Homo sapiens: one gene and its partner. The protein of the gene in region 1 interacts with the protein of each later gene in a pairwise test. Each region holds a gene or a part of one and is shown in the gene's direction. Other genes may lie near its edges.

Region 1 (6,133 bases):
TAATTAATATTCTTTAATAGAATATCATAGAAATATTTAAAACTTTTAACTGCCAAATAACTTGAAGATGTATAAAACTCCCTCCAATAAGATCCTTTATCTAGGCCAGACATGGTGGCTTACACCTGTAATCTCAGCACTTTTGGGAGGCCAAGGCAGTGGGATCACTTGAGGCCAGGAGTTCAAGACCAGCCTGGGCAACATAGCGACACCTCATCTCTACAAAAAATATGAAAAATTAGCTGGGCATGGTGGTGTGCGCCTGTAGTCCCAGCTACTCAGGAGGCTAAGGTGGGAGGATCGTTTGAACACGAAAGGTCAAGGCTGCAGTGAGCCGTGATCATGCTGCTGCACTACAGCCTGGGCAACAGAGTGAGACCCTGCCTCAAAAAACTAATAATAATAAATAAATCCTTTGTTTTTCAGCACAATTGATAATAACGTTTAAAGTCCTTTTGGTGAATAATTTAAACAAATTAAATACAAATCTGATTGGTTTTCTACTTGTTTATTTTTTTAATGTAGTTAATAACTGGAAGTATTTTATTTTGCAGGTGATCACTGTGTTCAGTGTTGTTGGAATGGATTCAGACTGGCTAATGGGGGAAAGGGGAAACCAGAAGGGCAAGGTGCCAATTACCTACTTAGAACTGCTCAATTAAGTAGGTGGACTATGGAAAGGTTGCCCATCATGACTTTGTATTTATATACAATTAACTCTAAATAAAGCAGGTTAAGTATCTTCCATGTTAATGTGTTAAGAGACTGAAAATACCAGCCATCAGAAACTGGCCTTTCTGCCAATAAAGTTGCATGGTAAATATTTCATTACAGAATTTATGTTAGAGCTTTCATGCCAAGAATGTTTTCTTACAAAATTCTCTTTTTATTGAGGTTTCACTAATAAGCAGCTTCTACTTTTGAGCCTCAACTTAAAGCAGAACTGTTTTCTACTGGATTTTTCATTAACAGCAAGCTTTTTCTTTTATGTAAAATAAATCTATTGTGAATTGATATCAGCGACTCATTTATTAGGTATAAATAATAGCCAAAGAATAAAATTAAAATTTATTTTAAACTTTCGGTCTTAAAAAGAGCTGTAGGATATAAACCTCTTTTGTGAAAAGTAGAATTTTCTGAATGCTTTCATAGACAAAAACGCATTTAAACTATGTTTACCTGGTTTTCCAACAGAAATCAAATGATTTTAATATTATGTTTTGATGGGTTATTTTCAGAGTTGTTTGGTTTTTTAAACACTACTGAATGGTTTCTTTTAAATTTAAGAACAACTAGTTCTTGAAAAGCAATACCGTATTTCTCTGATAAATTTGTAGTTAAGGTTCTAGAAAATCTAGGACAAATTTACTTCATTAAACATAAAGTTTTTAAGATTATTCAGTTGGCACAATTTAATGCATAATTGGGATTGGATCCATTTACTGTACTGTGGTACAGTAAAGAGAATGTGTTCTTATTGAACAGCAGATTTGTATACAAATACGGAATAATGCAACTACATTATAAATTGTATACGAACAAAATAAATTGGGTCACTCTGAGCTTACTATTAAAACATTGAAAATTTATTAATGAACACAGGCTATCTTGATGAGGATCTCTGCTTATGAAACACATACTAATGAAATTATTAGTGACACATTGGAAGCTAGAAAATTGCTGTTGGGGCCATTGCTATAAATCATTGTTTCCATGTTAAGACTTCTGTTCTAATTCATTCATTCAACAAACATTTGTTGAGGGCCAGATACTGTGCTGGTCAACTGGGGATACTGTCCTGAACAATATGCACACAGTTCTTGCCCCTGCAGAGCTTAAAGACCATTAAAGGATACAGAAAATTAAGCAATTATCCTATAGTAGGATTCGTGGTGTGATGGGGAAAATACAAGGTACTGTATTTGGGAGTCATGTAACTCCAGTTTTGGGAGTGAGAGAGGGTCTGGGGAAGAACTGTTCCAGATAAAAAGATGTGTAACCAAGATAGCATAGCACATTCTGACAACTAAAGCAATTTACTCTAACTTAAGCATGAAGTACAAAAGTATAGTTCATTTATTGAGGGAATGTTAAGCTATTAAAATGATACTTTTTGGTACTTTTAAAAAAATGAATACTTAAACACCGTTTTAAAATTTTGTGTTAAGAGCTCCTAATAAGAACTTGGTAAACATGTTGACAATTTAACTCACAGTCTAAACTTTAAAAGTAGTAGTTACCCTTTTATTTCTGTGCCATGAGACAAATTCTTCTGCAGTTTTATAGTTGTACAAGATGTTTTGACTCACTCTCAATTGCCATATTCTTAAAGAAACCCTGAAAAGCTGCTCAAGCTGGTCAGTTTTCTGTAAAACCAAGTAAATGAAATTTTCTCTCCCCTCAGAAAGGAAGTTCTACAGCCTAGAGTACCATCTATTGTGTTTTATAAGTCCAGATTTAGGCTTTGAAAGATCATACCAAAACTTCAGATCGACTTAAACAGCAACTATGAATTAGGTTTATGGGAAATGTAGTAATACAGGGGAAAGAATATCGGTAATGGAGTGAAATGGTCCTGGGTTCAAATCCAGTCTTCCTCACATATTGTGCTCTTTAAGCTTCAAATGAGATGTATAACTGCCTTTTCCTTACCAGTAAAATGAGGACAATAATTATGACACCATAGGGTGGTTGTGAGGATTAGCAAATGTTATCTTGTATTTCAGGTGCCTTTCAGGGAAAGGCTTGGCACATAGTAAACACATCCTGTAAATATCAGTTTCCCCTTGTTAGCCCCTGTAGCATCCTGACCTACCAAGTCTATAGGCCTTGCATATCACTGTGCACCAGAGATACCTCTTTTACATCTGGGCTCTGTTTTCTCTCTATCAATCCTATCCTCCACCCTCTTTAAATCAGACCCCAGGTTTAACCTTCCCACAGTCAGTATAAATCATTTTTCAGAACTTTCAGCTTTCCATCAAGTGAAAGTTGATTTTAGTTACCCAGTAATGTACAGAAACCTTCAATAATGTTAAGCTTCAAAGGCTTCTGGTACGTTTGTCTACCACAGAACCACCACAATATATATGCTTGTTCTTAGGTTTATTGCTTTTTATTTTAATGGGGTTTGGTTGTTTGGGTTTTATTTTGGTTTTGGCTTATTTTAAAGTCAAGTTTAGTTTTTACTCAGGTAAAGGCCTGAAGTTTCTTGGGCGTGGAAGAAAAAGCTTGGGAAGCCTATTAATTCATGGTGCAGTTCAGAATTGTTTAAATAAGCTCTGTGCCACTGAGCTTAATCTGAAAGTATAGTGACATGTGAAGGATGCACATATGAATGAAAAACTAAAATAATTGTAGGCTCTTCTATAAATGAAAAAAAAAGTGATTGGATTGTGTCTACCTTTTTCCTCAAAGTAATCTAACCTAAACGGTCATGGTGTTAAAACTTTTTATGGTGCTAATCAGAAAAATTGATGTTGCAAGAAATGAGGTCTCAAAAATGGGAATGTGCCTCCTCACTCTGCGTCACATGGGAAATAAATCCTGAGGCCAGGATCACCAGTGGGGTAGAGTCATCTTCATAGTCTCCTGTTATCCTCCCCCTGAACAAAGAACAAAGTGAGACTGGGAAGCTAGTGTTGGGGAAACATTTCTGGGATAAACTGTGGAGTGGAGAAGACAATGGAGGGCAAGGCAAAAACCCACAGACTTGTTTACCCATAGAGGCCCCACTCACCTCCATGCTGACAGAATTCCAGAAAAATTCCTTCCCTATCTCCCAAACACCTGAAATTCTGAAATATTGCCCTACTATTTAGCACTTTAAGCTTCAGTGAGGTGCTGTAATGGAGAGATAGCTTCATAGTTTAGCCTATAGCCAACTTTGCCTCAAGACCTCCAGATAAGATGAAGTGGCTTTTACCTCATGTGAGTCTCAAACGCTGGAGAGAGAGTTCCACAACCACCCCTGCCCTTTCTCCCATATTACGCTCATTAGAAAGTCTACTCAGGGCTGGGTGCCGTGGCTCATGCCTGTAATCCCAGCACTTTGGAGGCTGAGGCGGGTGGATCATCTGAGGTCAGGAGTTCGAGACCAGCCTGGCCAACATGGGGAAACCCTGTCTCTACTGAAAATATAAAAATTAGCCGGGCATGGTGGCGTGCACCTGTAATTCCAGCTACTCGGGAGGCTGAGGCAGGAGAATCACTTGAACCCCAGAGGCAGAGGCTACAGTGAGCCAAGATTGCACCACTGCACTCCAACCTGGGTGATAGAATAAGACTCTTGTCTCAAGGAAAGAAAAAATGTCTACTCAGTAGAGCAGTGATTGGCAAAGTGTGAGACCCCAGACCGGCAATATTGGCATCTCCTGGAGACTTGTTTAAAATGCTGATTACTATTTTCAAGAACTTTCTACCTTCATTTTTACTTATTTTTTGTTTTCAAGGGCTCATGGAATCAGTCTTCCATGTGACAGCTTTTTAAATATTTTAAGACAAAAACTGAGTCTTCTAATCTTAATTGTGTTCTAGCAGTAGTCATTGTAATTATAGTTATTTTTATAATTTATTTGTTTAGTGTATATCTGTCACTCTAGAATGTAGGCTCCCTGAGATAAAAACTATAATTCTTTTGATGGCAGTTACATTCCCAACTCTTAGCACAAGATCTAGGACATAGTATGAACTCAATAAATTTTTGTTGAATGAAAGAAAAATGCAAATTTATAAGCCTTTTCAGAGACCTACTGAATCAAACTCTGAGAGTGGAGCCCAGCAATCTGTTGTAAAAGCTGTTTGAGTAATACTGTTGCACTCTAAGCTTGAGAACCACTGCAATAGAACTAAGAGAACATTCATTTCACCTTCAGGCCTATTCTCTGACATCACTTGAAAAATCCTCTCTGCCTTCTGTAACCCTTAACCAACAACAGTGCCCTGTCCATGTAGGGGAAACTTCTGGGCTGTATTACAAGTGGGTAGGAAGGTATAAGGATATCATAGTGGGAAGTATTGCTTAGAATGCCAGTACTTGTTTGCTGTGGAAGGTTTCTAGGAATGGATTGCTTAGTCTAAAGTAAGCACTACCACCATCCACGTTTTCACTCAACACAGTGCCTTTTAATTGGTGACTAACATCAAAACACCTTGACAAACCGTTAAAACAGTATCAGAAACCATGTGTACATCCCTGTGCCTCTTAGATTGCTAAGTTCTGCTCTCATTCTTACTTCAAAGGACACTTTTTAAAGAATTGTTAATGCTTTTTTATAATACAAGTCATAGCCCTGTTGGCAAAAAGAAAAAAGATTCAGTGAGAAAGAAAAATCACTGATAATTCCATCATCCAGGGAGAACCACTGTTATTTAAGTATATGGCCTTCCAGACTTTTCTGTGCATTTATAGATATTTTTAATGGGATCAAAGTGTACATACTGTTTTGTAACTTTTTTTCACTCAACAATACCATGACTGTCTTGCTGTGTCAAGTATATTTCTACATCTCTTAATGGCTGCATGATATTCCATCATATGTGCCACATTTTATTAAACTACTGTTCAATTTTTAGGTTTCCAACTTTCATTAATAAAGTGCTTTAAAGAACATTGTGTTGCTAAATCTCGTATGTGTTCATATTTTCTCACGATAAATGCTTTGAAGTGGAATTGCTAGTGAAGAGGGTATGCCAGTTTTTAAAAGCTTTTGTTACTGCCATGTTGCCCCCTAGAAAACTCTAAGCAATTTATACTTTTATCAGCAGTATATGAGAGAATACTGTTTCTTTTGGAGGGCTTCCAACTAGAATGTTCTTGGAGTCTTTGGTTTAAAAATAAAGGGTAAGAGGGAGATAAAAAGATCCTGCAAAATTAAAGTCCAGTCTTAAATGTTTCTTAAATTATGACATTCATTTACTGTTCTTCCCTCTTTATCATATATTTTGTATTACTTTGGAAATGTTTGTAGTACTAGTTGCCTCTTGCTTTTATTCAGTCTCCTGGAAGCATTATTACCTTTCTGACATTTGCAAAGACAGTAGAAGAACAATCTTAAGTAGACTTGAATCTTGAGGTATCTTTGATGCAGGTGTACTGTTGATGGATTTAGGGAATGTAGCCGTAGTGGGGAAA
Region 2 (7,455 bases), on another chromosome or scaffold:
AGGGGCTTACAAAGCCTTACACAGGGCGAGGGGTTGGTGGGAGGGTTGGCACCTGCACACTCCATCTCCTGCTCACCACCTGCCTCTAATCTGAGCTGCAGCCTGGCTGGTCCTCCCATTTCTAAAGCTGAATGTCAAACAGTGCCAAATGCTGGGGCAGGGGGTGAAGAACCCTCTGTCCCACCCCTAGCCACCAGTGTCCTCCAAGTGCCCCCTCACCTCTCCAGGTGCTCATTGTAACCATTTCTCACTAGTGTCAGGCCCCCAGTGGGACCACATGCCACTGCCTGCACCTTTCGGCAGAGGAACCCCCACCAGACATCACCCTTTGCCTTAGCAGGGGTGACTTTGTCTCTCCTGGCTGGGCCATCCTTCCGCCAATCTGGCCCTTACACACTCAGGCCTGTGCCCACTCCCTATCTCCTTCCCACCCCTACACACACACTCCCTGCTTGCAGGAGGCCAAACTGTCCCTCCCTTGCTGAACACACACACACACACACACACACAGGTGGGGACTGGGCACAGCTCTTCACACCATTCATTCTGGTCATTTCCCCCAAAGGCATCCCAGCCTGGGGGCCAGTGGGGAACTGAGGGCAAGGGGATATAGTGATGGGGCTCAGATGGACTGGGAGGAGGGGGAGGGTGATGCATTAATTAATGGCTTCGTTAATTAATGTCATGTTGCTTGTCGCTTTCTCAGTGTGTGTGTGTGGTCCATGCCCACTGCTGGTGCCAGGGTGGGTGTCCATGTGCACCCGGCCTGGATGCCAGCTGTGTCCTTCGGGGGCGTGCGTGTAACTGTAGTGTAGTCAGGTGCTCAATGGAGAATATAAACATATACAGAAAAATATATATTTTAAGTTTAAAAAACAGAAAAACAGACAAAACAATCCCCATCAGGTAGCTGTCTAACCCCCAGCTGGGTCTAATCCTTCTCATTACCCACCCGACCTGGCTGCCCCTCACCTTGGGCTGGGGGACTGGGGGGCCATTTCCTTTTCTCTGCCCTTTTTTTGTTGTTCTATTTTGTACAGACAAGTTGGAAAAACAACAGCGACAAAAAAGTCAAGAAACTTTGTAAAATATCGTGTGTGTGATTCCTTGTAAAATATTTTCAAATGGTTTATTACAGAAGATCAGTTATTAAATAATGTTCATATTTTCACTTCAAATGGTTCCCATCCACTGTATCAGCTTGGGGGTGAGGACTGGGTAGCTATGAAGACAGTTGGCCAAGACCTCAGAGTCCCACTTAGTGCTCTGCAGGGGGTGAAGACCATGGTAGCCCAGGTCCCTGTCAACCACAGGGCATGGCACTTGCTTCCACCAGTTATAATAGGTGCCAGGCCCTTGACATACATTGTCTCATAACATCTCAAAAAGCTGTCTTTTAAAAACAAGCAAGACAGGCTGGGTGCGGTGGCTCATGCCTGTAATCTAGCATTTTGGGAGGCCGAGGCGGGCAGATCACTTGAGGTCAGGAGTTTGAGACCAGCCTGGCCAACATGGTGAAACCCCGTCTCTACTAAAAATACAAAAAAATTAGCCAGGCATGGTGGCATGCGCCTGTAATCCCAGCTACTTAGGAGGCTGAGGCAGGATAATTGCTTGACCCCAGGAGACGGAGGTTGCAGTGAGCCAAGATTGCGCCACCGCACCCCAGCCTGGATGACCGAGCGAGACTCTTGTCTCAGAAAAAAAAAAAATACAAGCAAAACAAACACCCTCCCAGAGCCTGAAAGCCAGGACCCTGGAGGGAAGAAGACAGATCAGAGATGCTGGTTTAGTGGGGAGGTGGATCTGGCAGTCTGGTCAGACCACCAGGGCCTGACAGGGCCTCTGCCGGGAGCTATGAGTGAGCACCTGGCCAGTGTCCCTACGGCCCAGGAAGCCCTGACCACAAGTGCAGCAACGGCTCCCTCCTGGCCCACAGGAGCTTGAGGCCGCAGCTGCTTAAACTGGAGCCATAGGCCAAACTTCATTTTTGTGAATCCTCTCAAGCTTAGGCCCTAGTTCATTTTCACCCTAGAAGGTGTGACCTTTGCGATCTTCTCATGTGGAGAGAATTATAACCTGTAACCACCAGAGCACAGGTGTCCCTGCCTTCCCACCACAGTCCTCTCTCTCCTCCCAACACTCTGCTCTCTGCGCACTGACCTGGCTGAGTCCTCGCCACAGTCTCTGGGGTGGGTACTAGTGTATCCCCATACCACAGATGAGCAAACTAAGAGGAGAAAGCCTTTCCCCCCAGGTGAGAAGGCTAAAAACCAGCAAAGATTTTAGAGAAGAGGTGGCCACCAAGGGTTGGGGAGCTTGGATGCTAAATAGATGAAGGGGCTTCGAGGCCTCAGCCAAGATGGAGACTTTTTCTGTCTCCTCTGCAGGGTTCGGCTGCAGAGCAATGCCTAATCCACAACCCCCAAGACAGCTCCCATGGCCTGCAAGAGACCGTGCAATCTTGGATAGGGTTGTAAGATAAAATACAGAACACCCTATTTTGAATTTCAGATCATGAACGAGTTTTTAGTATGGAAGTGTTTCAACTATTGTGTGGGACATACCTATACTGAAAAACTGGGGGCTGGGCACAGTGGCTAACGCCTGTAATCCCAACACTTTGGGAGGCTGATGCAGGAGGATCGCTTGAGCTCACGAGTTCGAGATCAGCCTGGGTAGGATGGCCACCCCGCCCCTGCCCATGTCTCTACAAAATAAAAAAATTTTAAAAATTAGCTGGGCACAGTAGTGTGTGCCTGTAGTCGCAGCTAATCAGGAGGCTGAGGCTGGAGGATCCCTTCAGCCCAGGAGTTAGAGGTGGCAGTGAGCTATGATTGTGCCACTGCACTCCAGCCTTGGACAAAGCTAGACCCTGTCTCAAAAAAAAAAAAAAAAAAAAAAGGGGGCAGGGGGACATGATTATACTCGAAGATTACTCATTGTTTATCTGGAATTCAAATTTGACTGAGCATCCTTATTTTGATTTGCTAAAACTGGCAACCTTACCCAGATGTGGCAACCAGTGGGAACCCAGACCCCAGAAAAAAAGCATCAGCACCCTTTTTAACCTGTAGGCCATGCACACATCAGCACACACTGAAATCAGTGGCTGAAAGGAAGGGATCCTGTGTTTTATAAAAGCACTTTGTCATAGAATTATTTTAATTATATGGACAGCTTTTTGTTTTGTTTTGAGACAAAGTTTCGCTCTTGTTGCCCAGGCTGTAGTGCAATGGCATGATCTTGGCTCACCGCAACCTCCGCCTCCCGGGTTCAAGCGATTCTCCTGCCTCAGCATCCCGAGTAGATGGGATTACAGGCATGTGCCACCACACCTGGCTAATTTTGTATTTTTAGTAGAGATGAGGTTTATCCATGTTGGTCAGGCTGGTCTCAAACTCCCGACCTCAGGTGATCTGCCCGCCTCAGCCTCCCAAAGTGCTGGGATTACAGGCGTGAGCCACCGTGCCCAGCCTATATGTACAGTTTTTTAAAAGTAACTCCATATACAAAAAAAAAAAAAAGACACAGAACACAACCTGTCAGAAGTCACTGTGGCGTGAAGTGGGACCAGAACAGGCCTAGCCCAGGCTTGTGGAGAGACCTGGCTTGTAGAGAGACCTCTCATCCTCCGCAGTTATCAGAAGTCCCTGGTGGGGAGGAGGGTCACTGAGGGCTGCCCAGCCTCGTCCCTATGCGGGAGGGAGCCCTAGGTTCGTGCTCCAGGTCCACCTCACTTGGAAAAAGGGCAACGTGAAATAACAAACAAAAAACTTTTCCAAGTGGGAGAAAACAAACAAAAAAAGGCAACATGTGCAGCACTCGCTGAGCACCCAGGGTGGACTGGCATTTTACACCCCTTTCCCCTTTGATTATTAGGACAGGAAGATCATGTCATCAGCTACATTTTATGGCCCATGAAACTGAGTTTCAAAAAGGTTCAGGAACTTAACCAACCAATGCCACACAGCCTCCGAGGCAGAGCAAGGGTTCCAGCCTGGGTCAGGTCCCATTCACCAGACCACGGAGGTTCTGTTTCTCACACAGTGACACCTACCCACACGCCAGCCAACAAGGACACACTCGCTCAGAGGTACACGCACAAATAGAGCTACTCTTCCTAGGGAATTCAGCAAGTGTGGGGGCTAGAGCTGTGTTGCTTCCCGAACCCTCACCGCCGCTTTCAGGGGTTAGAGATGCTAATTCATCCCTTCCCACCTCCTGAGAACCGACGGAAACGGTCCCTGAGAACTACAACTCCCAGCACACCCCGCGCTCACCACAACGGGACCGGTCCGTGCTCATGGCCTCCTGGGACTTGTAGTTCTAGCCAGAACCCTGTTCAACTCTTCCCCGGCTGCAACCAAGGACTCCGTATCCCAGCATGCAGAGGAGCCGGAAGACAGGCGCTTAGAGGACAGCCCGCTGCCGCCGGGGACGCGCAGGCGCAGCACCCCTGTTTGTCGGCCCCCCGAGAGAAGAGGTACGGTCGAAGCCAGGAGCCAGGCCGAGCGGGAGCTGACCAGGCTTGACTCGGGTACAGAACGAGGCACCAGTCCCCTTGCGAACCGAAGGGCCTCGCAGTGGATGGAGGAGGCCCAGCCCTGAGGTCAACGCCAACCAGGCTAGCCTGGCACGGGGCCTACAGGGTGGGTAGGCGGGCGTGCCGCAGCCGTCCAGGGCCTTCCCTCAGGTCCCGGGCGAGGGGCCTACGCTGCGGCCCGGCAACAAGGCCCGACTCGGCCCCTCGGGACCAGAGCCCCACCCGATCGGAAGCGGATCCTTTACCAGGGCCATAGGCCAGTGACTAGGCCGGGCCTGGGCCTCCCATCGGGGCCGGACTAGGACGAGGCCCCGGGGAGGCCCCTGGCCTACCAGACCCTTTTCTCAGGCCGACAGCCGCCAGGAAGATGCAACGTGCCCTGCCAGGCGCCCGCCAGCACTTGGGGGCCATTCTGGCCAGCGCCAGCGTGGTGGTGAAGGCTCTGTGTGCGGCGGTACTATTCCTCTACCTGCTCTCCTTCGCCGTGGACACAGGCTGCCTGGCGGTCACCCCGGGCTACCTCTTTCCTCCCAACTTCTGGATCTGGACCCTGGCCACCCATGGGCTGATGGAGCAGCATGTGTGGGACGTGGCCATCAGCCTGACAACGGTGGTGGTGGCCGGGCGTTTGCTGGAGCCCCTCTGGGGGGCCTTGGAGCTGCTCATCTTCTTCTCAGTGGTGAATGTGTCTGTAGGGCTGCTGGGGGCCTTCGCCTACCTCCTCACCTACATGGCTTCCTTCAACCTGGTCTACCTGTTCACTGTCCGTATCCACGGCGCCTTGGGCTTCCTAGGTGGCGTCCTGGTGGCACTCAAGCAAACCATGGGGGACTGTGTGGTCCTGCGAGTGCCCCAGGTGCGCGTCAGTGTGATGCCCATGCTGCTGCTGGCGCTGCTGCTCCTGCTGCGGCTCGCCACGCTGCTCCAGAGCCCGGCGCTGGCTTCCTATGGCTTCGGGCTGCTCTCCAGTTGGGTATATCTTCGCTTCTACCAGCGCCATAGCCGGGGCCGAGGGGACATGGCTGACCACTTTGCTTTCGCCACTTTCTTCCCTGAGATCCTGCAGCCTGTGGTGGGTTTGCTGGCGAACTTGGTGCACAGCCTCCTGGTGAAGGTAAAGATATGCCAGAAGACGGTGAAGCGCTACGATGTGGGTGCCCCATCCTCCATCACCATCAGCCTGCCAGGCACAGACCCTCAAGACGCCGAGCGGAGAAGGTACTGTGAAATTTTCCAAAATCTTGTCAAGCTAGGAGCATACTGGTCGAGTCACATGCCATCTGTTGAGGTGTTCGCTGTACATAGGTGGAGACCTACAGTCAGGTATTGGGGCACATCCGGAAAGACAAAATCAGTCTTTGGCCTTAAGGAACTCAGCAGTTAGGTGTCTGGGGTCCACGAGGCACTTTTCTCACCACTCGGGCCACTTAATAAGTCTCAAGAAATGCAGTTTCCTTTGGTGCTGTGAAGTCCCAGTGGAGGGACACAGAACCCTGGCCTTGCCTCAGAATCTCAGAATCCTAGACATTGGGCCTGTGGGAGCCAGAAGCAACCTGCTGGTACTTTCCCCTGTGAGGAAGGGACAGGGAAGGAGGCCTGGGGTCCTCAAAAGGTGATCTGGGCCACTCCAATTTCCAAATGCTGTGTCCTCTTCCTGGGCTTTAACTCAGATGCTGTGCTTCTCTGCCACTTACTTATTGAGAGGGAAGCTTGGGGTATTACCACATTTACCTCTGTCTCCAGCAAGCATGTGTCACCAAAACCAGGGACAGGCTACATGACCCACTGAGGGAGCCTGCTGACACCAGGGAGTGGCGATGACCCTTTCATTATCTGTAAACCAAGCTATCCACAGCATCAGGAGTCCCAGCTGAATTATTCACTGAATGCACTTTGGCCAGGGCAGGAGGGATCTTTTTAAATTCAGCTTACTCTCTCTCCCAGATCTGTGGAGCCAGCAGAGTGGTCCCAGCCTTCATAAGATCCACAGCTCCATTTCCAACATTATTCCTCACTGTTTTGAGGCAATTACTCGAGTAGTAAAATCTGGGACGGGCTTTGTCTTTTGCATTGCCAAGGCTCCTGCTTTTGCTCACCTGTGAATGGGGTTGTGGCAGGAAGCTCTATGAATTTAGCTGCAGTTATCCCTGTATTTACTCTCCACTGGGCTATGGAATTGAGTGTGGGACACACTCCTTTCTTGAAGGAGTTCCAGCTGGGGAAGGGCCACAGATCACTATGGCCCAAGGTATGGTAGGTGTTGAAAAGTATATACAGCATGCTGCAGGGCATAATTCTGGGCCCTAGAGCTTGGGTCTTTATAGGTGATAAGCCCTAAGGACAGAAGTCTCTCTTAACCTTAGCTGGTATTAAAGATGGGGCCAGGTGAGCTGGGCCTGGTAGGAATTGAGCTGTCCCTCAGAGCCATTCAGGTGGGGCCAGGCCAGTGGGGACCCCTCCTCCACTGAGAGGTGTTGGAATGTTAGGGTTGGCTGGACATTCAAAAACCTCTGCCTAGGCCCAAGAAAATGGACAGGGGGGAAGCAGGTTGGTGGGGAGGAAGGGAGGGTCAAGAGGCGGGTTCTTGGCATAGCCTTATGGTTGTTAGCTTACATGGGGGTGGCGGTTATTCCTCCAGCCAGTTTGACATCTGACTGCATGGCCACGCCCAACTCCAAAGGGCTACCAGGAGAGGGAGGCAGGGTTTCCTATCTGTCTCTCTGGTCCTTGTGAGGAAGTGACTAGCGTAACACTAGCTCTCTGCCTTGGCAGGCTTTAGATGGAACTGGCAAGGGCATCATCAGGATGGCAGCCTGGGTAGCAGCAGGGAAAGACTGTCCTGTCTATACCAACTTGTCATGTGTGAGACTGACGGGCAGGGGGGAAGCGTGCTAGGGCTTTCTACACCT

The links. The genes of interacting proteins can lie anywhere in the genome.
Region 2: the proteins of SH3GLB1 (region 1) and TMEM115 interact in binary tests that used the Homo sapiens proteins (3 or more experiments, as listed by UniProt).

The regions. Positions count from the first base shown.
Region 1 is NC_000001.11:86,742,574-86,748,706, forward strand, and holds the end of SH3GLB1 (endophilin-B1), read left to right. Parts: intron 1-554; coding exon 555-662; 3' UTR 663-5,611; downstream 5,612-6,133. UniProt on the Homo sapiens protein: May be required for normal outer mitochondrial membrane dynamics. Required for coatomer-mediated retrograde transport in certain cells. May recruit other proteins to membranes with high curvature. May promote membrane fusion.
Region 2 is NC_000003.12:50,356,522-50,363,976, reverse strand, and holds the start of TMEM115 (transmembrane protein 115), read left to right. Parts: upstream 1-4,455; 5' UTR 4,456-4,913; coding exon 4,914-5,764; exon of another isoform or gene 5,765-5,859; intron 5,860-7,455. UniProt on the Homo sapiens protein: May play a role in retrograde transport of proteins from the Golgi to the endoplasmic reticulum. May indirectly play a role in protein glycosylation in the Golgi.